5 separate regions of the Homo sapiens genome follow, and all the other regions are reported to be linked to region 2. Evidence: microRNA targets listed by miRTarBase, many of them from high-throughput screens and not tested one by one. Region 2 holds a microRNA gene; each other region holds the end of a gene's coding sequence.

Evidence for each region. Region 2 holds the annotated microRNA hsa-miR-4724-5p (AACUGAACCAGGAGUGAGCUUCG, at 2,608-2,630, opposite strand). A microRNA usually pairs through its seed, bases 2 to 8, with sites in the 3' UTR of a target mRNA and lowers its output. Matches are read on the target gene's strand: a 7mer-m8 pairs with bases 2 to 8, a 7mer-A1 pairs with bases 2 to 7 and ends in A, and an 8mer does both.
Region 1: miRTarBase lists GPX8 as a target of hsa-miR-4724-5p. Seed matches in the 3' UTR shown: 7mer-A1 at 1,141-1,147 and 7mer-A1 at 1,745-1,751.
Region 3: the mRNA of TRIQK is a reported target of hsa-miR-4724-5p. Seed matches in the 3' UTR shown: 7mer-m8 at 1,959-1,965.
Region 4: the mRNA of GTF2E2 is a reported target of hsa-miR-4724-5p. Seed matches in the 3' UTR shown: 7mer-m8 at 814-820.
Region 5: the mRNA of MCMDC2 is a reported target of hsa-miR-4724-5p. Seed matches in the 3' UTR shown: 7mer-m8 at 2,439-2,445.

The regions. Positions count from the first base shown.
Region 1 is chr5:55,163,778-55,167,777 of GRCh38, forward strand. GPX8 (glutathione peroxidase 8 (putative)) reads left to right here. Exons shown (of 3, transcript NM_001008397.4): 3 at 278-3,520. The coding sequence ends at 441. The region is part of intron 2 of CDC20B (cell division cycle 20B); the gene reads right to left. Among named protein-coding and RNA genes, the nearest start is that of MIR449A, 4.8 kb to the right of the region's middle.
Region 2 is chr17:31,532,464-31,537,522 of GRCh38, reverse strand. MIR4724 (microRNA 4724) reads right to left here and starts at 2,640; the gene lies at 2,552-2,640. It overlaps RAB11FIP4 (RAB11 family interacting protein 4), which reads right to left. Exons shown (of 15, transcript NM_032932.6): 15 at 1-5,059. RefSeq lists an enhancer at 1,713-2,012.
Region 3 is chr8:92,882,981-92,888,039 of GRCh38, reverse strand. It overlaps TRIQK (triple QxxK/R motif containing), which reads left to right. Exons shown (of 5, transcript NM_001171797.2): 5 at 1,305-4,506. The coding sequence ends at 1,418. Among named protein-coding and RNA genes, the nearest start is that of TRIQK, 81 kb to the left of the region's middle.
Region 4 is chr8:30,575,619-30,579,618 of GRCh38, reverse strand. GTF2E2 (general transcription factor IIE subunit 2) reads left to right here. Exons shown (of 8, transcript NM_002095.6): 8 at 582-1,301. The coding sequence ends at 698. Among named protein-coding and RNA genes, the nearest start is that of SMIM18, 61 kb to the left of the region's middle. RefSeq lists a silencer at 3,817-3,866.
Region 5 is chr8:66,918,426-66,922,425 of GRCh38, reverse strand. MCMDC2 (minichromosome maintenance domain containing 2) reads right to left here. Exons shown (of 15, transcript NM_173518.5): 15 at 378-3,423. The coding sequence ends at 3,257. It overlaps SNHG6 (small nucleolar RNA host gene 6), which reads left to right. Exons shown (of 4, transcript NR_152600.1): 3 at 41-102; 4 at 312-736. Among named protein-coding and RNA genes, the nearest start is that of SNORD87, 2.1 kb to the left of the region's middle.

The sequences.
Region 1 (4,000 bases), not on the chromosome of region 2:
GATTACAGACTGAGCCACGGCTCCCAGCCTACTTTGCTTCATTTCTTGATACTAAGATCACATACTAGATGAGTAGACTCATAGGTGAAGTCATCAAGTATATTGAAATCTGGTTACTCTAACCTTGAGTTTCACTTCGTTTGGGTGTTTTGTTTTTTATATTATGACAGTCCTAGAACTTGATACTAAAGTTATCATTTATGCAGATACTAATAGAAGTGAAAATCTTGACAAAGAATAAAATTATGCTCATGAAAATATGTTCTGGATATTTTAGATTCTTCAAAGAAGGAACCAAGGTGGAATTTTTGGAAGTATCTTGTCAACCCTGAGGGTCAAGTTGTGAAGTTCTGGAAGCCAGAGGAGCCCATTGAAGTCATCAGGCCTGACATAGCAGCTCTGGTTAGACAAGTGATCATAAAAAAGAAAGAGGATCTATGAGAATGCCATTGCGTTTCTAATAGAACAGAGAAATGTCTCCATGAGGGTTTGGTCTCATTTTAAACATTTTTTTTTTGGAGACAGTGTCTCACTCTGTCACCCAGGCTGGAGTGCAGTAGTGCGTTCTCAGCTCATTGCAACCTCTGCCTTTTTAAACATGCTATTAAATGTGGCAATGAAGGATTTTTTTTTAATGTTATCTTGCTATTAAGTGGTAATGAATGTTCCCAGGATGAGGATGTTACCCAAAGCAAAAATCAAGAGTAGCCAAAGAATCAACATGAAATATATTAACTACTTCCTCTGACCATACTAAAGAATTCAGAATACACAGTGACCAATGTGCCTCAATATCTTATTGTTCAACTTGACATTTTCTAGGACTGTACTTGATGAAAATGCCAACACACTAGACCACTCTTTGGATTCAAGAGCACTGTGTATGACTGAAATTTCTGGAATAACTGTAAATGGTTATGTTAATGGAATAAAACACAAATGTTGAAAAATGTAAAATATATATACATAGATTCAAATCCTTATATATGTATGCTTGTTTTGTGTACAGGATTTTGTTTTTTCTTTTTAAGTACAGGTTCCTAGTGTTTTACTATAACTGTCACTATGTATGTAACTGACATATATAAATAGTCATTTATAAATGACCGTATTATAACATTTGAAAAAGTCTTCATCATTTTCAGTATTTCTCTCTGCATTATTTTTTAGAAGCAACTCAAATTCTGTAATCATAATATTACCAAGTAAGTCAGTCTTTATTTTTGCGTGAAAATCCCAAGTGTAGAAAAAAGGACATGAGTATAAGATCATTTAACTTGATTCCTTATAGGCTGATTTGGGTTGCTAATGTATTCGTACTAGATTAGCCACTTGGGAGGAATTCAATGCTGCATCATTCTGATAGCTGAAATAGTAAAAGTCAACTCCAAACAGCCTAAATTCTAGTATAAAAAGGGGGTGATCATACAAGTCCTAAAGTGTAGATCAGCAGTCACTGAACCTCTTAGAGTCACAAGGCATTTCTTCTCCCAAAGTCATGACCTTTATATTTTGTTAGCCTTATAATTGACTAACAAAGCAACCTGCCAAGTTGGTGAAGGTTAATTATTGCCTCATGAAATATACATTCATCGCATAAAAGAATTAAATAGGAAGATGGCCAAAAATGTAAAAAAGTCGTATAAATTTGTCTAAGAAGAAAAAGACCCAATTTAAGTAGTCTGTGACTTGACTCCCAAATTCTGACCTGATGGATGAAAGTGAAGATGTTTCGTATGGCAAATTCAGTAATGCTACCTCAGTATATAGTTCTGTATACGTATTTGGACCAAAGTTATTAGATAAACCAAAAATATTTCATGAAGCATCTTCTGCTTCAGAGTCCATATCCAGCCACCCAGCTATGAATGTATTTAGAAAGATATTTGGTGGAGGTGGAATTTCTACCAGAGGTCAAGAGGATTTGTAGGGATAGCCTCAAGAATGCCAGATGAGTGTGTCAGAAAGCCTGCTCCTACCTCTCGCCAGCTGCGTGACTTTAGGCAAGTCACTTAAGTACCTTATTTCAGTTTCCTCACCTGTAAATTGAACAGGGGTTGAATGGAATAAAAAGCCCTTTGCAACTCTAAAAGTCAATTAACACACTTACTAAGGTGTTTTAAGTGACCAGGAAGGAAATCAGAACTAACCTGGATTGTTAGCGAAGAAAACAGAAGCCACCAACAAGCCTATCTGTCCTTTGCAATTTTGCTCCAAGAGCCTATTAGCAATTTGAATTCTGAGCCTCTAAGAAAACTTATGCTCAGGTGGCCCCTCCAAGTGTTGGTGCCAGAGCACTCTTGCCTTGTATCCTCACCTACGCCTTCCATGAACTCATAGCAGTGCTGTGGCACTGCAGGGGTGTTTTATGCATTCACGTTAGGAGCATGAGCAGAACTGCATATGCCAGCACCACATGGGCAGCAGAGACTCCCCACTGCCAGATGGATGATAATGGAGCTGCACTGGGAACAACCAGGACTGTCCCAGTCAACATGATACAGATGAACATCCTGCCTTAAGTCACTAGCTCTCTCCAAAGCCAGATAAAGTGGGTTTCTTCACTTACATCTCTCTAATCTTGGCTGCCTTATTCAACCTACAGACTCTATGTCAGTGCTGGATTTTCTCCCCTTGCCCTTTAGGTAAGCAGAGTAGGCAGGAGGAGATTTGAAAGCGTGTCATACATATTGCCTTGAAAGAAAGGACATTCAGGTGTCCCTTCGGGGTTCTGTAACAATTAGGCTATGTGTGCTGAGAGAGGGAGCGGAGTCATTTGCTGATGTGCTGCTACCTGTAACTCAAATGCCTCATAGGAATACCAGCGGACAAACACATAGAGGAAAAGTTGAATCTTTCCTATATTGGACAATCTTCCTTCAGTCTTGTTTCTGCATCAAAAAGTCTGGGACACAGAGTGCTACAGGATGCCTGGGCTAAGGACTGTAACAGAAAAATATCAACATCAGAGCCTGGCACAGTGGCTCACACCGGTAATCCCAGCACTTTGGGAGGCCGAGGCGGGTGGATCACTTCAGGTCAGGAGTTCGAGACCATCCTGGCCAACATGGTGAAACCCCCATCTCTACTAAAAATACAAAAATTAGCCGGGCACGGTGGCACATGCCTGTAATCCCAGCTACCTGGGAGGCTGAGTCAGAAGAATCACTTGAAAACAGGAGGCTGAGGTTGCAATGAGCCAAGATTGCACCACTGCACTCCAACCTGGGCAACAGAGCGAGACCCCATCTTAAAGACCCTGTCTCAAAAAAGAGAGAAAAAGAAAAAGAAAAATATCAGGCATCACATGAAAGAGTATTCAGCTGTCGTTCTTGTGAAAAAGGAAAAGGACAAAATCAAATGCATTTTAACTGTGGTAACTAATTCACTGACTTGAAGTTTGCTTTGTTTGTTTTCTTTGGTGCGTAGAGAAGAATACTTCATACTAACTCCTGATCATCTTACAGCAGACATAACAACAGAGTGTTAGAGACTGGAATAAATATGAATTTGGCTGAAATGTGCCCTGAAAGTTGTATTTCATTTTTTTAAATGTTTAACAATTACACTGTATCAATAGTATATATACGTGTACATATATATAATTCTTAATAACTGCAGTGTATCTAGCATATATATAATGGTGGCTGGTACATGTTTAATAGCAGACTCTGGAGGAGGAATCCTGACATACAGCATTTGCCAGCTCAATGTAAATGCTCATGCTCCCTCATGGTCAATTTCAATCTACCACTGGTTTAGTAACTAGGATGCAAAATTTCTAAAAATGTGATAATTGGTGATGGGCATGATGGCTCAGGCCTGTAATATCAGCACTTTAAGCAGCTGAGGTGGGAGGATCACTTGAGCCCAGGAGTTAGAGACCAGCCTGGGGCAACATGGCAAAACCCTGTCTCCACAAAAAAAATCAAAAAATTAGCTGGGTGTAGTGGCACATGCCTCAGGTCCCAGCTACATAGGAGGCTGAGGTGGAAGGATT
Region 2 (5,059 bases):
GCTTTGCCCGACATCACTAACAATGCAGGGAAAGCTCTGTGGGAGAAGCTGCTTTACACAAAGTTGCCCTTTTCTGGAATGCAAGGCTCCTAAATTAGCTGCAGGCTGGAGGAGGGACTAAGTGGGTCCTAGCCCCCCATGCTTAAGACAATAATGAAAGATTCTGTACAAAGTTACCAAGTCTACAGGCTGAGCGAGCCAAGGGTAAGTGGGGCCTGATCCTTGTGGACGAATGTGCCCGGGAGAGCTGGCCTCACCTGGGGGAGGCACGTTGAAAAAGTACACATTTACAGGGCTCGGGAAAGGCCAGGGAGATGAGACGATGTAGAAAAGGAGGCAGTGGGCAATGTGGAAAATCCTGTACAGTGGCGATGGGGAAGAAAAGGCACAAGGACAAAGACCCCAAACCATGCAGATGAAAACAGCCTGTGCAGCACAGCAAAGCGGATGGGCCCCAGCAGGAGGCAGGGTCACCCTGGGGACAACAGCACTTGGATCCTGCAGGAGACATGGCCTGGATGCCATCCCCAGCTGGTAGCTCCGGGGCAGACATCTCTACCTTACAGATGGGGAAAGGAGCAACCTACGAGGTCGGGGCAGGGAGGTCATATGGGAAACCTCGCCTGGTGAGCATGGTGACATTATACTTCCCCAGGGTCTACGCTTTTAGAAACAAATCTTTCTAGAAGGCAGCCTATTTTCTCTGGTGGGTAGCAGAGAATATGGCAGAAGGGCCTCAGAGTTGTCCTGCCATGCAGGTAGGGCAGGCTCCTGGTTCCAGCCTCTCCCGCTTCCTGCTGGCTGCCCCATTCATGTGTGCACCCAGGGCAGGAAGTGAGGACCTGGCAGGTCCCTAGGATCAGCGCTCAAAGTCATCCACTGACGGCATGGCCCTTCTAACTTGAGGCCCCTTGGCGCAGCAGACCTCAGTCTTCCTAGCCAGCAGCGTCACCCTAGAGGGGATTTCCTGGGTCCCAAAGGGAGGGCCAGAGTCTGGGAGAAAGGACTGTGGAGGATACCAGCACTGAGTCCTAAGTGGCCCCTTTCCTCAATCTAGAATCCACAGTAGCCCTTGAGAAAGAGTCGCTGTGGATCTGCTGGGCAACCAAAGTCATTTTCTTGGCATGGTGACCACGCAAAACTTTCCTGGTATGATCACATCGAAAGTTACTTTTTGTTTTTTTAAAAAAATAAAGACAAGAGTTTCACCATGTTGTCCAGGCTGGTCTCGAACTCCTGAGCTCAGGCAATCCACCTGCCTTGGCCTCCCAAAGTGCTGGGATTACAGGTGTGAGCCACCGTGCCCGGCCTAGAGTTAGTTTTTAAGTTTAAATTTGCTAATGCATTAAACCCCACCACACACACAGGACACAGAGGGCTTCATTTCTCCCAGTTTCACCTGGCCCTGCTGGCCCCTGGAGGCTTCTGCTAAGTCCCTCATTGGAACCAAGAACCCGCGCTTCTGTCCCCGCGCCCCCCCCCCCCAACTCCCCTGAACACCAGCACCAGTGGACTAGCACCTGGAGTGTCCGGTGTGTGAGTAGGATGCTGGTTTGGCTAACAGGGAACGAGCTGGGACTCCCTTTATCAACCCAGTCAGGAAACAGACCAGAAGCAAAACCCACAAAGACAGTATGTCCTCCTGCTCAGCTATGCAAATAGGTGGCAGCTGTTTCTGCGGCTGCTTTCAGGGGGACAGCCCCACCTGTCAGTTCCCTGCTGACTCTGTTCTACCTGCTCTTTGAGATGAGCCTGTAGCCAGTATATCCCAACACATGCCACCCACTGATTCCAGGGGCACCAGGCCAAGGTCCTGCCCACCCACTCTGGTCTGCTAACCTCCAGGCTGGTGAGAACAGCTGGATCCACCAGCTCCTGAAGGCATCTGGCCTCCCATCCTGCAGGCCAGGACCATTCAACAACAGGAAAAGGAACCCTCCCAGCAAGAGAGCTCACTGTCATTCAGCCACGGGCTTGACAAGCCCAACAGCCACTTTGACCAGTTTCCTCTACCTCTGGCCAACGACCTTGCAGGACAGGGCAGTCTCAACCTCGGACTGCATATCATCACCTGGGGAGGTCTTTACACATCTCGATGCCTGGACCACACCCCACACCAATTCAATCCGAACCTCTGGGGGTTCAGCCCAGACAGCAGAAGCTTACAAATCTCCCCAGGTGATTCCAATGCACAGCCAAAGCTGAGCCCACTGTTTTAGGCCCTCGTGCAGGTTCTTGAGCTTTTTTTTTTTTTTTTTTAACTTTTGGTAGAGACAAGGTATCACTATGTTGCCCAGGCTGGTTTAGGACTCCTGAGCTCAAGTGATCCGCCTGCCACTGCCTCCCAAGTGCTAGGATTACAGGCGTGAGCCACCATGCCTGGCCTGTTCATGTTTTAATAGGTCAGAAATAAAGTCATGAAAAGGAATTTCTCTGTGACAGTTCGCAAAGAATTCTACCAATTTAAAATAAAATAATCTAGGATAAACTCTGGCCAATTCAAAGCTAAAAGAAAAAAACATTTTTACTAGAAGTTTCTTAAAGCCTCTCAACGCACAGGGACTAGCTGAACCAGAAGGTACTTCATTTTCTAATAGATAATGTACACGAAGCTCACTCCTGGTTCAGTTCATTTTGCGTGGCTTCCAACTGAACGCAAGGGCAGCTCAGGGCCATGTAAAATCTGAGTCTACTACAGAAACCCTCGCCCCACCCCCAAAACACCTCTAAATTTCAGATAAGTTACTGCTAATCCCTACTCGGTAGGGTTGCCAGGTTTAGCAAAAACAATAAAAACAAACAAAAAACCCAAGTAGGACACGCAATTAAATTGGAATTACCTGAGCAGCTCTTTAAAAAATCCCATGCCTGGGCTACACCCACAACAATCAAACCAGAACGTCTGAGGATTCAGTCTAATCATCAGAATTTTTAAAATCTCCCCATTTCAAATATGTCCTGGCCAGGCATGGTGGCTCATGCCTGTAATCCCAGTGCTTTGGCAGGCTGAGGTGGGAGGATCACTTGAGGTCAGCAGCTCGAGTGAGGCAACACAGTGAGACCCTGTCTCTACAAAAAATAAGAAAAATTAGCTGGGCGTGGTGGTGCATGCCTGTAGTCCCAGCTACTCAGGCAGTTAAGGCGGGAGGATCGCTTGAGCCTGGGAGTTCAAGGTTGTGGTGAGCTATGATCATACCACTACACTCCAGCCTGGGCAACAGAGCAAGATCCTATCTCTAAAAATAACATCTGTCCCATGTATTAGATAGAACATATTTATTCTAAAATTATTTTCTATCTGAAATTCAAACTTAACTGGGCATCCTGTCTACTACCTCGCAGCCCCACTACTGAGGGGTAAGGGCAGAAACAAAGATCAAGCTCCTACCACCTAGGCTCTGGGACCTGCCACCAAGGGGTCTGGGATCTGCCAGGGGCTGTGGAGCTGGGACACCTGGGGCATCTGCCCCCTCAAGCTAGCTTTTGAGCCCAGAAGAATATTTTTACAAACATACACCATCTTTAAAAGCCAAGCAACAAGCCAGGTTTTACAAGAAATGTATTCTGGCTGAAGAAAGTAAGGTTGGACTTGAGGTGTGTGTGAGCTGGAATTCAGCCCCCCATTTAAAAGCCAGGCCTGCTCCAGAGGCCCCTCTGGCACTGCAGCAGGTCCCGGGGGCCTTTCAGACGCCGGCTCCCTCCGGAGCCTGTTCCCATGGCGCCCCTTAGAGGGAGGAGCCTGAAGCACGCCCCAGGCTGCCAGCTGCTTCCGCCCACCTTTCCCGTGGCAGAGATTCCTTCCCACGTTGTGACTCAGGCTGTGTAACCCAGGCCTCTGCAGCCTTCTCTGAAATTCCAATGCAGCCAAAGGGCAGATAACATTTTACAGATAAAATACTCAACCCTGGGGTAAGGCCCCCACGCACCAGTACTCCTTCTGACCTAACACCCAGGCCAAAGCTATGTCAGGATCTGTCTTGTTCCTTTCAGCCGTGGCCACTCCTTCCTATTGGCAAATTCTCAAGAGACCCTCTCCTCATGCCTTCTTCCACTGCCTCTTCGCAGAACCCTTGGGGGAGCCCAAGGAGACCCGCGTCCTAAGGGGCTGAGAAACTCCTAGAAGACCGACTGCCTAGCCTAGTCTTCCCAGTGTGGGTGGCTCCAAAGTCCTGGGTCAGACCAGTGCAACCCCATTATGTGCAGCATGAAACTAATCCCCAACAAAAGATTAAAAAGAAGCCACGAGATCCAACAAATGCAAAGGCTGATTGGAATGGAATTGAAGGTTGGTCCTGGCCACAGCCCTGCCTCTGTCAAGCAGGTGTCACACCCAAGTCCCCAGATCCCCTCTCCTCACCCTCACTGCCCTCTCTTTCTGCAACTCCCCCTCCACCGCCCTTCCCAACATGCCCAAACCTTCCTTCTCATACTATAAGATGTGCTGAAGAAAGCAAGAAACTGCAGGGGGAAGAATAAGACCACACACGTTTATATATATTTGGATTAAGAAAATGAATCACAAGCCATATAAAATTGAGATAAATTGGAAAACTCTAAGGTAAGTACCATGTCTATTCCCAGCTGCCTAGAACAAAGATCCATTAAAAATCCATGGTGTGAATTTCCACCATGGGTCAGAAGGATGGAAGACTAAGGTTTTCCTGCAACTTTCCCAACCGCCTCCCACCAGTGCAGCGAGTGCTCCCCTGGCTGAGAATCAAATACAGGTGTGTTTCTAAACGCTGGAACGAAGCAGTCTTGCTGCCACACGAGTGGAGCCCGGAGCTAGGATTCTGAAATCCAAACCCAGGCCTGCCATCACCAGGCTGCGTGGAGAATGAAGACAGGGAGCCAGGCAGACGGTTTCTCCGTGCATCCATCTTAAGATGCAGCCATGGGAAGGAAACTGACTGGGATGGGAGTTGTGTTCCTCCCCAAAACTCATTTCTTTGGTTGCCCGATGTCAACTCCTGCCTTAGACACCCATCCCAAACCCTCCTTCTCCTTCATTTTTATCCCTTCATGTTACAATGACGCAGTGAATGCTGCTTCATTGTCT
Region 3 (5,059 bases), not on the chromosome of region 2:
GCCATGCCCTTTTGAGATGCCAAAGTGTTTCTACTGCAACAAAGAAAAAATTCACTTTCCTTTGACATTATATTGGTATATTAGATTTAAAAAATGAAACCTTACAAAGATCTTTGACACTTGAGTTTTTCAACCTCTTGGTTTTTATTAATATTTATTTTCATAGTTTGGACATCTAAATAAATGTAATTATGAAGCTAAAAATCTGTATAAAAGATCTATTTATAAATTCAACATTCATGTAAAAATTCCATGTTGATTATAAGCCAAATTCATTTTAATGTTTTTAAAGTTTATTATTACTGACTTACCTTCTTGTGAAATGTAAACTATATTCATGTAAATGCTAATGCATTGCTTCTCTGTAAAGCAGTGCTAGGTAAAGGGCATAATATACAGTAGAAATTAGAATATAGTATGTAAGCCCTTTAGGATACTGAACTGGCATTCTATTTGCTTTTTTTTTCTTTTTTGATTTAGTCAAATGATATGTTAATGTTAAGAAAGTTCTGGAAGGTATACACACAGAGATATATACATATACATACTTTTTGAGAGATAATATGATTTTTATCATAATATATGAGTAAATTTTTTATCATTATTACAATATAGTTGATTAATTTAATCCACATCACATCACAAATGAAAAATCTGGGCCCATCCTTCAAAACTGTGATAAATGTATTGTATTATGCTTCATGAGTGAAGAGTACTTTGTTTTGTTCCTCTGCAGTGTAAACTATAGACTTTAGGATTTAAAAATTAGAGTTTCAACAAAGTCACATTTAATGAGTATGTATACATCTATATATAATCTAGAGACCAGTTACAACTGTTTCTTTACAATGAAAAGGAATGATAATTAAAAAAAAAACTGTGCCCAAATGCTATCATTAATACTGAATGTATTGAAGCCACAAATAAAGTTAAACACACTCAAATAGAAAACAGATCAACTGTGTAGATACAAACTGCATTGCTTGTATCGAACATCCTGATATCCAAACTATAAAAATATATTAAAATGATACATTTTTAATATTACTATAAGGAAAAAACAAATTAGCTAGAAATAATAATACTAATGACTCACCCACTGGTGTATTTGCCATTTCATTGGGACTTGCCAGTACAAAACAGTTTCTTAACGGCAAAAAATGGTAAACAAAAAGGATATGATTATTAGGTTCAAATTATTCATTCTAGACTGTGGAACAATATGGTTATTTTATCTGGTGAAACTAATAATGTTAACCAATCTTTTTTCATCAATTTCAAGTCTACTTTTTTTTTCTTCCCAGGAAGTTGGCCTTGTACTTGCAGCTATATTGGCACTACTACTGGCTTTCTATGCTTTCTTTTATCTCAGACTCACCACGGATGTTGACCCTGATCTGGACCAAGATGAAGATTAGCTAAGCAACAATCAATGCATGAAAGAGAAATAACTTTACGAAAGCACCTTTTGGGACCAAAACTTTCAATACTGAAACTGTAACATCTTTAATTCTTTCTGCTAATATTTTCAGTTTGCAGACATATGATTTTTGATAGTTGCATAGGATGTCAGGAAAAGAACCTTACCTAGCAATGCAGTATAGTATGTGCTACTGGATACTTTTATATATCTTTCTGCTTTGACAGCCACCCTATACATGGTACATTTAGATGAAATGGGAACCAGATCCTAAATTTTTCAAATGTCATTGCCAATTTATGTGTATAATTCCATCACTTCCTGATGAGTAAGTCTATTTTTGTTCTATATACATCATAAGTTAGTATATATTCTTATTTACAGAAACATGCTCAAATCACATTCAGAAAGAACAAAAAGTCATGGGAAATTTTTTATTTTACAACAAAGCCCTGCTTTCTTTCTGGACGTATTTTACATCATTAGAGAGACTATCTGCACATACATCTACCATAATCTTTTTCCTTCTTTGCCAACTGTTCAGTGCACATGTGCTGCATCAGAAATGGCACCTGGATGACAGAAGCTCAAAGAGTCACATATGTCTCTAAAATAGAGTTCTTTTCCTCTTGGGCTGTCTGAACTGGTGTAAATAGAAGCTCAGTTGATCTTGGTTTTAATTAACTTATTACTCTATTAATATAACCTTGGAATTCTATTCTAATTATGTTGTTCTGGCTGCTTGTAGTATCAGTTCGCCCCTCTTGTTAGGGAGATATGTAACAATCTGTCATTTAATTGAGCAGTCTTTTTCACATAACAGTAATAGCAAAAATCCTACCTACTCAGAATCATCTTCTTAGGTTGTCTCCTAAATCTGAACAATACAGTTGTTTTATAAAATTACATTTTGTCTCTTGAGATTTAATCAATTAGAACTCTTTAGGGAGAAAATAAATAATAGAAGAAAATATATGCCTCATATTTCATATGTAATTATCTGTTGATATAATTTTTCAATGTATTTTGTATTTGTGGGAGCATAATGACCTGTACATTCAATATTTTTACTGGTAATTCAATTTTTAAATATGTTTTTACAATGCTTGAACACATAAACCTTAGAAAACTGGAAAATACGTGTCCACAGAAAGAGTTATTAGCTACTACCTTATGTAAAGATGCATAGAAAATGAAATTGTTGGAAACATGTGCACAAAGTGTTTTATATTATATACATTGTATTTATGAAGAATAAATAAAATATTAAGATTGTTTTCCTGCTAGCCAAGAGAAGAAATCCTTGGGAAATATCTAAGGAGTATATGGGGCTTTATAAGCACTGTTTCTAAAAGATATTCTCTGGTACTTTTGCAAAAAGTCGACTGTGACTGTGTAGCATTATGTTCTGTAGAATTTTTTTCAAGTAGCATAATTTATTTCATTGGTGTGAAAACAGCCAAAGGTTCCAATATCCTCACAAATCATTTATGCCAAACATCTGAGGGCAAAATTTAGCCGGTGTTATTTACTAGATTCTTCCCTTTGAACTCACAGACTCAAGAGACAGACCAAGAGTTCTTATATACTCACCACAGCGGACCAATCCAAGTGGCATTTTTAGGAAAGGTTGCAGCATTTAATGCCATGTGGTATGTCTGTTCGTCAAGTGGGTGGCAAGGGAATATCCAAGCTGGCATTTTGGATATGATGGGCCTTTTACTTTCCTGAGTGACATGCCACATGTCAAGAAATACTGCTCCCCACCCCCCCACTCCCATCACATTTACGTGAACAATTTTCATTTAGTTATTTCCCGTTCCATATGGTGTTAAAACAGTCGTATTAAATAAAGATTATTTCTAGTTTTCAGTGGTAATTTAAATGAGAGGATATGTAATAATTGCTTATTAGATACTTATCCAAATGAAATATAACAGAGTTTACAGTACTTAAAATGGCTGGTTATGGTCTTGGAAATGTTTGAAAATTCATTATCCTGAAAAAAACTTTACCATTCTGTTTTACCCTTGAGGTATTTTTTGGGGAAAAATGTTTTTGATAACTATTAATCTAAATATAGTATAATTATAGGCAAATTTCACTGCCTAGTTTTATTGATATCCTGAGTCTACAGCTAGTCCATTCGTATGACTGATTGATTTATGATAGCTCCAGAGAACCATAAATTTCAAAGGCTAAACTCTCTGATTTTAGTAAATAGTAGGTAAAGTGACACAATATATGTTTACACAACACTGTTTTCATGAAATGCAAACTTTGCAAAACTCACATTAACTGGGAAGCAGCCAACCCTCTGTAGAGAAATCCCAGATTGGGAGTCTGGTTTGAATCTTTGAAGACAGAAAGGTGATATCCGGCCTGCTGTTTTAAAGGGACCACACTTTTGAATACCTACTGGTGTTTGGCAGAAATCTGAGACTGGCACCAGACACAAATTTTAGACATGGGTATCTTCCCTCCAGTAATTCACTGCTCAGAGTAATTTAGAAGACAAAAACAGAAAAAATTGTAATGATTTTTTAAGTGTTAGAATATGTTTGTTAACATACTCTGCAAAATAAATTTCAACTAATGCAATAGACTTAAAATATAGCCTATGGAATACTGTGATTGAAGTTTGAAGGCTTGCTGGTTCTTATTTTGCATGCAAGTTTAGACAGGGTAAAGAATGTATAAATTTATTTGAGATGAGATACAGTATTGTAAAAATATAACCTCATCTAGAATTGCTTTTAAAACAAGCAAAAGCCTATTTTAGTACAAATGTAGGGTGGGTAGTTGTTTTAAGGTAGCAAAATACTTCAAGATTTTCTATCTTTTTAATTTTTCATGAAGACAGAAGAAATACTTTCACCCCAACCAATGACTGTAAGATCTTGAGAGTATGTTCTTACTCATTTCTGTAATTGCAGTAGTGTAGTCATCTGCATATAAATTTAATAAATGCATGTTAAAATTTAAGTTGATGCCTTTTAGTCCTCTCAGAGTCTGTCACAGTTTCTTTGTGTAAATGATAAAAAAGTTTGAATTTAATCAATAAAACTTAAAAATCACAATATCAATCAACTCGGCATTTACCATTTATGGTCCTTGGTTGTACTGAGATATATACGTGTTTCATCCTGATTCTCTTTAAATCAAGACAACTAGCATTAAGGTCGCTATAAAATAGAAACATTGCTCTTTTCTAGGGAATCAAATATGCTATTTTTATCTTAGAATTTATTAAAAACTATACTCAATGTTTGAATTCAACTTAGCATGCATTTTCACTCCAAATGAAAATAGAACTCAATTTTCATTATAATGTTTATGTGACTACTAAAACACTGTATTTTCCAGGTTCTAAAATTATATACTCAATGATAATTCAGTAGAGCAAATTGTGCTATACATCAGCGTCAGAAATATACTTCTAGAAATTAAACCCAGCCTATTTTAATGTATTTCATCCATAACATAAAGTTGTTGAGCCAGAGACTACCTAAGATAATTTTGTATTCTCTCCTCACCAACAATTAGACTTCTTTACACTTACCTGGGGCTTCTCTGGGAGATTCCTACCACTTCTCCCTTAGCAGCACTGCCTTCTTTTATTAGAATTGCTCCAATGCA
Region 4 (4,000 bases), not on the chromosome of region 2:
GGGTGGGCATGTGTGTTTGGTGAATTTTTAGGACTCACCTAAAGGGAAGCTTTATTGTCAATCTCTTTCCACAAATGAGTGTAATTGCAGCCCTTCATGATTTCCTATTATTGTCTCATTTGTTAATTTTTTTCATCATGTGATGCTAATATTTCAAGTATATAGAAAAGAATAGAGAATATTACAGACCTTCATGTGCTCCTCCTTTCTCAGGATTTTGCCATATTTTCTTCAGATCTTTTTAAAATCGGTAATGGTGGATACGTTTTTAAACCTGATGACAGAGACAGAGCTGAAGGGCTTCATCGTCCCTTTTGTTTGACTTAGTGCCTAGAACCATTTTGGCAGGTTTTTGTGCCTGCTCCTTCATTCCCGATGGCATCTGCATCTCAGGGGAACAAAGGCCCGGGGTCTGGTCAGGGCGTGTGCTGTGCCCCATGTGTGCTGCTGGGTGGCAGAGCAGGAGAAGGGTCCGAACCTGGCATCCTCAGCCACTGGCATCTGGGCATGCTCAGAACATCCTGGCCACACCACCCCTCAGAGCAGCTGTTGTTTCTAATTGTTTTTACCTTTTCCTTTAGGCCCCTATTCAGAGAAGGAAAAAGCCTGCTTCACAGAAAAAGCGACGCTTTAAGACTCATAACGAACACTTGGCTGGAGTGCTGAAGGATTACTCTGACATTACTTCCAGCAAATAGGGAACAGTTTTGCCCTGGAACAGAGTTACAGATACACAATCAAGAGTGTTCTTGCTGATGCTCGGGGTCTGAAGACTGTCTTCCTATCTGCTTCTTGCGGCTGAGGAGAGGAGCAGTTCAGTTTACAAAACAAGTGCAAATTACCAAACTCAAAGCTTATTTGAGTAGAATGGGCTCATGGGCAATGTGATGTTCCCTGTTAACCTTCTGTTACTCCCTGGGAGAAAGGCGCTGAGCGTGGCATGCAGGTGTCTTTGCTGTGTTTTTCTCCACTTCTAAATGGTTCCTGGTTCCTTTCTTCCTCGTTTGTTACTTTAGAGCAAGTTTGCCCATAGTCTTGAATGCAATATTTGTTTATTCCAAAAGAACATATTTATAATAAAATCACTGTAGAAGGATTTTTAAGATGTTAGTGAATTCTGTTTCTTTTCATTCTCGGAAATGGCAGGAAGCAGCTCCAGTCTCTGATTTCCATGGGTCACGTGCTGGGGATGTGATGAAGCCTGCAGTCTGCACTGTGTTGCTGAGCACATGGATTTCACCACTGGAACACAGGTGTGCTGCTTGTTAGCAAGCAGAGCAATAAAGATGTGCTGGATGTCATTGTTAATGTTTTCTTTTAAAAAGAAGCGTCAGTGTCAGCCGGGCAAGCTGGCTCACGCCTGTAATCCCAGCACTTTGGGAGGCTGAGGCAGGTGGATCACGAGGTTAAAAGATCGAGACCATCCCGGCCAACATGGTGAAACCCTGTCTCTACTAAAAATATAAAAATTAGCTGGGCGTTGGGGCATGTGCCTGTACTCCTAGCTACTTGGGAGGCTGAGGCAGGAGAATCACTTGAACCCGGGAGGCGGAGGTTGCAGTGAGCTGAGATCGTGCCACTGCACTCCAGCCTGGTGACAGAACGAGACTCCGTCTTAAAAAAAAAAAAAAAGTATCAGTGTCCAGCTTCTTGGGTTTGGTAAATTCCAGGATGGCAAGCCTTTGTAGTGTCTCCTCGTCAACCTGAACGTCAGCTATACCATGCCTCCACCCTCATGTGGCCTGACCGGAGATGGTTCTGGTGGAGATGCCCTCTGTCACCGGCCCAGCTCATGAGAGCCATTACCAAATATGTGAGTGTTCTTTAGAGTGAGGGTGACTCACGGGAAATTCACATGGTTCTGCTTTCTACGGCAAAGTTTGCATTTTCCTCACCTGCACTGTTTATGTTCTGCTGTGGTCCTTTGTGCTGGTGGTCATGGTCCTCCCGTCACAGCATGGGATAGTAGTGGATTAGGAAACGAGGTGTTGGTTCTCAGAAAAGGCATGATGGAAACCCAGAGCAGGAAGTGCTTTGTGCAGACGACAAAGAACCTTTTTTTGCTTTTTCAGTTGTTTTCTCTTTTCTACTTACCTCTCATCCCTTTACAGTGTTATCTGTTTGCTTTACCTCTTTCTTACCTCCAAGCCCCAAAACATGGCAGGAGAGGATGTAACTGAGGTTCCCACGATAATTTAGAACACAGGAAATACAGCCTGTCTTGCTTTGTATAAGGTTTTTTTCTGGTAAGGAAGAGCTTTAATATCTTATGGCATGAAACTAGCTTTCCTGTAAAAAATCTAGAGTTAGCTTATCTCCAGGTAGGTACCTACTTTTGTGATCTCCACACTCCATCTTATTTTATGGGCCAGGTCTGGAAGTACAGTTTGGACATCTCATCTGCTTTGCAGGGAGATGGGCATCAGGGCCTCCGTCGTGGGCTCTGTGATCAGGTTCTCCATCTCTGTGATAAGGCGCTTACTGCCAGTTGTGTTATTGGTTGTGACTTCTAGCAATGCCTGTGCTCAGCAGTACTTCGTGGGCTGGCCTGATAATTGATTTCAGTTATTTTGTCTAAAATTCATTTCAGAAATGAAGATCTAGCAAAATGAAGTGACTCACTAAATTGCTGTACTCAACAAAATTCCGTAGCTTTATCTCATTCACTTGCAGTTTCTTTTGTTAAGCCTCGACCCACTCAGTCTACTACATGTAAGAGCAAATCCTCCATATACCCCATCTCAAGGTACTGGGGTTGCATCATCGGGTGACATGTTGAGGATACAGTGTTTGTGGGAACACTGATGGAAGGTTACTTGTGTTGGACGGTCATATTACAGGCACACCTCATTTTATTGTACTTGCTTTATGTGTTTTCACAGATACAGTGGAGTTTCTTTTCCATATTGAAGGTTTGTGGGAACCCTGCTTCAAGCAGATCTGTTGGTGCCGTTTTTCCAACAGCATGTGCTCACTTTTTGGCAATAATATATTTTAAATTAAAGTATATAATTGGATTCTTTAAGACATAATGCTATTGCTCACTTTCTACTATCATGTAGCATAAACATTTTAATATGCACTGGGAAACCAAAACATTTGTGTGACCCACTTTACTGTGATATTTGCTTTATTGCGATGGCCTGGAACCAAGTCTGCAGCATCTCCGAGGGATGCTATACAGAGAAGCTGTCTCTTCGCAGTTCTTCTGGGTGTCTGAAAACATATCCACCAGAAACACCAAGTTGAAGTCATGTTCTCGCCTCTGCCCGTTTCTGGTGGCTCTGCTGGCCATTTAGAAGCACGTGGGAATGGCACGGCTCGGTGAGTTAAGAGGGTATGACAGTCGGGAGTGCATTTGATCTATAATTCATCACCATGATGTGAGGCTTTTAGGGGATAGCTAAGGGAAATGTAGTCAAGCCTGGACAGAGTGTAAAAACCGAACATTTGGCTGCTGCTGTCACAGCCTGTAAATGTGGCCAGATGATGGTGGGACCCAGGGGACAGAGTGGCACTTGACACCTGTTGAGCAGAGGCTTAGTGGAAAGGCAGCGCAGGACATCCCGTTCCTTCCAGCCCCAGCGTTCAAGGGACTGCGAGTGGACAGCCCTGTCTTTATCTGTGAGCCGTTTGAAATCTGTAGCAGTAGAATGGGATTGTCAGTGTGGACGGTTTTGTGGGATGAGGGCATTTGGTTTATCAGTTCCCTGATTCTTAGTTAATAGTGATTTTCTGAGGCATAGAGGATGAGACTCAGTGTCTCTTCCCTGTAGCCACGGGTTTTACTTTCAGATGACTCATTTGTGGGGAGGATTTGGGGTTTTCTAAGGTTTGGTTGACTGTTGACAAGCTCAGCCTGGTGCCGCGCCTTCTGCAGCGAGGCGGAGCAGCCCTCCTGGACCTTCCTGCAGGTTCGAGGTCTCTCAGGGTGGTTTTTGTGGGCTTGTCCTGAGAGATGAGAAGGTGTTCTGTGGGAGTTGTGGTGGGATGGTCCAAG
Region 5 (4,000 bases), not on the chromosome of region 2:
ATTTAATTAAGGGTGAATATTCTTTGTTTTTAGCATATAGGTTGCTGTAGATGAATGTTCTTAGCTGTCATGTTTAAAAATACTTCTGCTTCGTTACCTCAAGTAAGTGATTTGTCAAGCAACTATGTCTGCTGACAGTTCAGAAAGTATCTGATAAACTTAAGGGTGGGGGCAGATTCTTGTTGAAGTTGCTTTTGCATGTGTGGTATTCTCAACATTAGTTTTTTGAGGGGCACTTGTGAATATTGAGGTTATATGAGAACTTTGAGTATGGAATGATTTTCACTGTGGTTTCTGACTTTGTTTTGGAGGTGTGGCATGCAGCATTTTGGAAGGAAAATTGAAGACGTGTTCAAGAAAACATGAACAGAAGCAAATGATGAAAATGAGCATTTTACTTGATGTTGATAACATCACAATAAATTATGGAGAAAAATACATATTTGGCTAACTTTTAATTGCTGAACAATAAAGTGTTTTCTTTTAAATCAACTCTAAATAGCTCCATTCTCATAGTCACTAGTCAGACCTGTTTTGAACATATTCGAAAGATTATAATCTTGTCAATAATTAGCTTATTTATGGGTGGTGATTCTCATTGAGGCTGACAGCTGGGGAGACATTGCTTGTACCTCTAGGTTCCCTGTCTGGCTTCCCCTTCAGAGCCTGCTGTTGTACCAGGTGGTTGAATCTTAAAACTCTTTAATACCAAATAGCAATCAAATTCCCCCTTACAGATAAAGGTTTCACCTTTTTTATTCAGTTTGCTTTCATCTTTGTGAACAAAAAAGTCATCCTAATACTAGTACATGTAATAACTAAGCAATATGCTATGTTAAGAGAAATGACTGAGCAGACCAGTCTGTCTAGGACTAAATTGGCAAGAATTCTAAAGCTGAATTTATATCTGGGTGAAGGTTTAGAGCTAAATCTTTTCTCCTGTTGAGTACTAGCTTATAAATTCCTTTTACCAAGGTTATAATTTTTATATGATAAATGGTATAAAACCTGTATAGCAACATCTTAGTCACTTCCCTCAGTATAGATTTGGGGGGTATAAGTGCAGTTCTGTTGCATAGGTATATGAAGTAGTTTGGAGTCTGAGCTTTTTGTGCAGCCATTACCTGAATGGTGTACATTGCACCCATTAATTTTTCGTCCTGCACCCCACCCCCTTCTAATTCTCCAATAACCTTTAAAATACCGTTGGCATATTTAATATTAATGAATTACCTCCCATAATTGTTTCTGAATGTACACTTCTACTCTTTAATGAGAAACTTAAACATTTTAATTTTTTTGTGGTGAAGTAACCATCTTTGAGACTGAGGTTGGGTTTTTTGAGCTGGGGAGATTAAGGTGGCAGTGAGCTATGATTGCATCAGTACACTACAGCTTGGGTGACAGCTACATATAAATATGTATATATAAATATAGATAAGTAAATAAAAGCCATCTTTGTGCCATGCATGGTGGCTCACTCCTGTAATCCCAACACTGGGAAGCTGAGGTACTGAGATGGGAGGATGACTTGAGACCAGCCTGGGAAACATGGCAAAATTCCATCTCTACAAAAAATGCAGAAGTTATCCCAGGGTGGTAGCATGTCCCTGTAGTCCCAGCTACTCGGAGGCCTAAGGTGGGAGAATTACTTGCAAGGTCAAGGCTGCAGGGAGCTGAGGTGGCGCCACAACCCTCCAAACGGTGACAGCCCCTGTCTCCAAAAAAAAAAGTTTTTAAACTTTCCAATTGTAAAAGGATCCTAGTTTTATAAAATAGGAATGTGTTTTGCCTTCCCCCCATAGAGAGCCAGACATGTTTGAAATGTAGTATTTGAGAAGCACAAAATAAACGTCTTAACATTATAGAACTGTAATATGTAAGTATTTTGTTGAAAACTACAGTCGCCAGTCGTGTTGGCTCATACCTGTTGTCTTAGCACTTTGGGAGACTGAGGCAGGCAGATCACCTGAGGTCGGGAGTTCAAGACCAGCCTGGCCAACATGGTGAAACCCTGTCTCTACTAAAAATACAAAAATTAGCCAGTCATGGTGGAGTGCACCTGTAATCCCAGCAGGAGAATCACTTGAACCCGGGAGGTGGAGGTTGCAGTGCCAAGATAACACCACTGCACTCCAGCCTGCATGACAGAGCGAGACCCCATCTCAAAAAAACAAAAAACAAAAACACTACCTTTGGCTTCTGAAAACTAATACTGTTTACTCCCTGCTACTAGTAGGTATTCAGTAATAGTGAACAACTTCCTCCGGGTCCTGTGGAGAGTGGGAGAGGTCCAGCTGTACAGTTAAGCATCTCTGTTAAGGGACCAGTTTTGAAAGAATTGATGCATGGTAACATCTTGGTTAATAAAGTGGCAATTTGGTAATGACATTTTGCTTTTCTGTGAATAGAACTGATCTTTTATTAAAGTTATGGAAACTGAACTAAAAAGGATTTATAAATTTTACAAGATGGATTTGTTTTCTCATGGTGCCCCTATCTTTTCAGAGCAGATATCTTCCCTCCAAAAATGAGGACTAGATTTGCAAGTTGGTTTCTTTGCCTTTTGGAGCCTTTCTTGTAACCAGTTAGGGTTAGAGAGCCAATTTATAAGTTATTGGCTCCTTGTTTCCGTGTAAAGTATTTTTTTCATTTAACCTAGCGTATACGTATGGAAAACTTCCAAGGCTTTTCCCGATTCCATATTTAGGGCTTCTAAAACAGTAGTATGTAATGGACAGGCCAGTAATAAAGTATGAAAAGGCCTTACATTTGAAGCTTCGGGTTATATAAAGTATTTACTCATCAGTTTAGCAAGTTCACAAGTGGAAGAAAAATGTTTTAGAGTAATTTGTAGGTAAAGAGTTATTGCCATCTTGTGACAGTAGAGTGAACTACATAAAGGTTGCCATTTTACACACTGCTCAAATTGCAACATTTACATTTTTATCTGTTCACCACTGGTATTCTGGGCTAACCAGGTTTTTCTTTATAGTATTCTCCTTGACAACTTTATCACTTTAAATTGTCCACATTGTTCTAAGTTTTAAAATTCTGTTGGTTTTAGAGGTTTGGATTAGTATTTATCCCATTAGCAATTAGTTTTGAGGGGACTATATTTTATATTTTTAAAAACAGTATTGTAATATATTCCTGTACAGAGTATTATCAAAGCATTACTTCAAAGTCACTCTCAAAATAGTCACACTTTTTCTCCACTGCTTAAGTAGGAATGAACAAAAATTCCTCAAATTGCTTATTCATCACTAGAGAAAATAGTTGTCCCAGGTCCATATGTGGCAATAAATTGTTCCAGCTGTTGTTGGCACTGAGTCAGATAGAGATCCCTTTGCTCTAAGTATTCTTCATTATACAGTTCAAATGGAAATACTGCATTCGGAGCAACACAAAATACAGTGGCCCCTAAATGAAGAAGATAATAGAGTGTAAATGACAAATACTCCTTAAAATGACAAGTATGAAATCACATTTTCAACCAAAATATTTTAATGGAATCTTAAAAATTAAGTCTGAGCCCATGTGGTTCTGTGAAAAATAAAAGTCAAAAAATTAAGTTCTGACCTATTCAGTAGAGTATTTCAATAATCATTATTGAAATCTGACTCTTGTTTTCTGAAACCCAGAAAGCAGGTTCAGTAAGTGCACACGCATTGGTACCAGGGCCAATGGAAGAAGTATGTTGATGTTTATATTTTAAAGTTTGGAACTAGAAACTTGCCTTCTACTGAAATAGTCATTATAGTTTTGAAGCTGATGAGTGATGTGAGGAGGTGACAGGAGTAGGGAGAAAAGGTACTGGAAGGTAAGAAATACTAATCTTTATTTGATAACGGCTAAGTGGACGATCAAAGATAAAGACATTGTAGTACATTTCTCAGTTGTTAAAACCATTCACATAAAGGCAGACAACATAAATCTATGGAAGGGTTTCAAGACCATTCTAGGGGAAAGGACAGATTCACTTTGGATTTGGCCATGA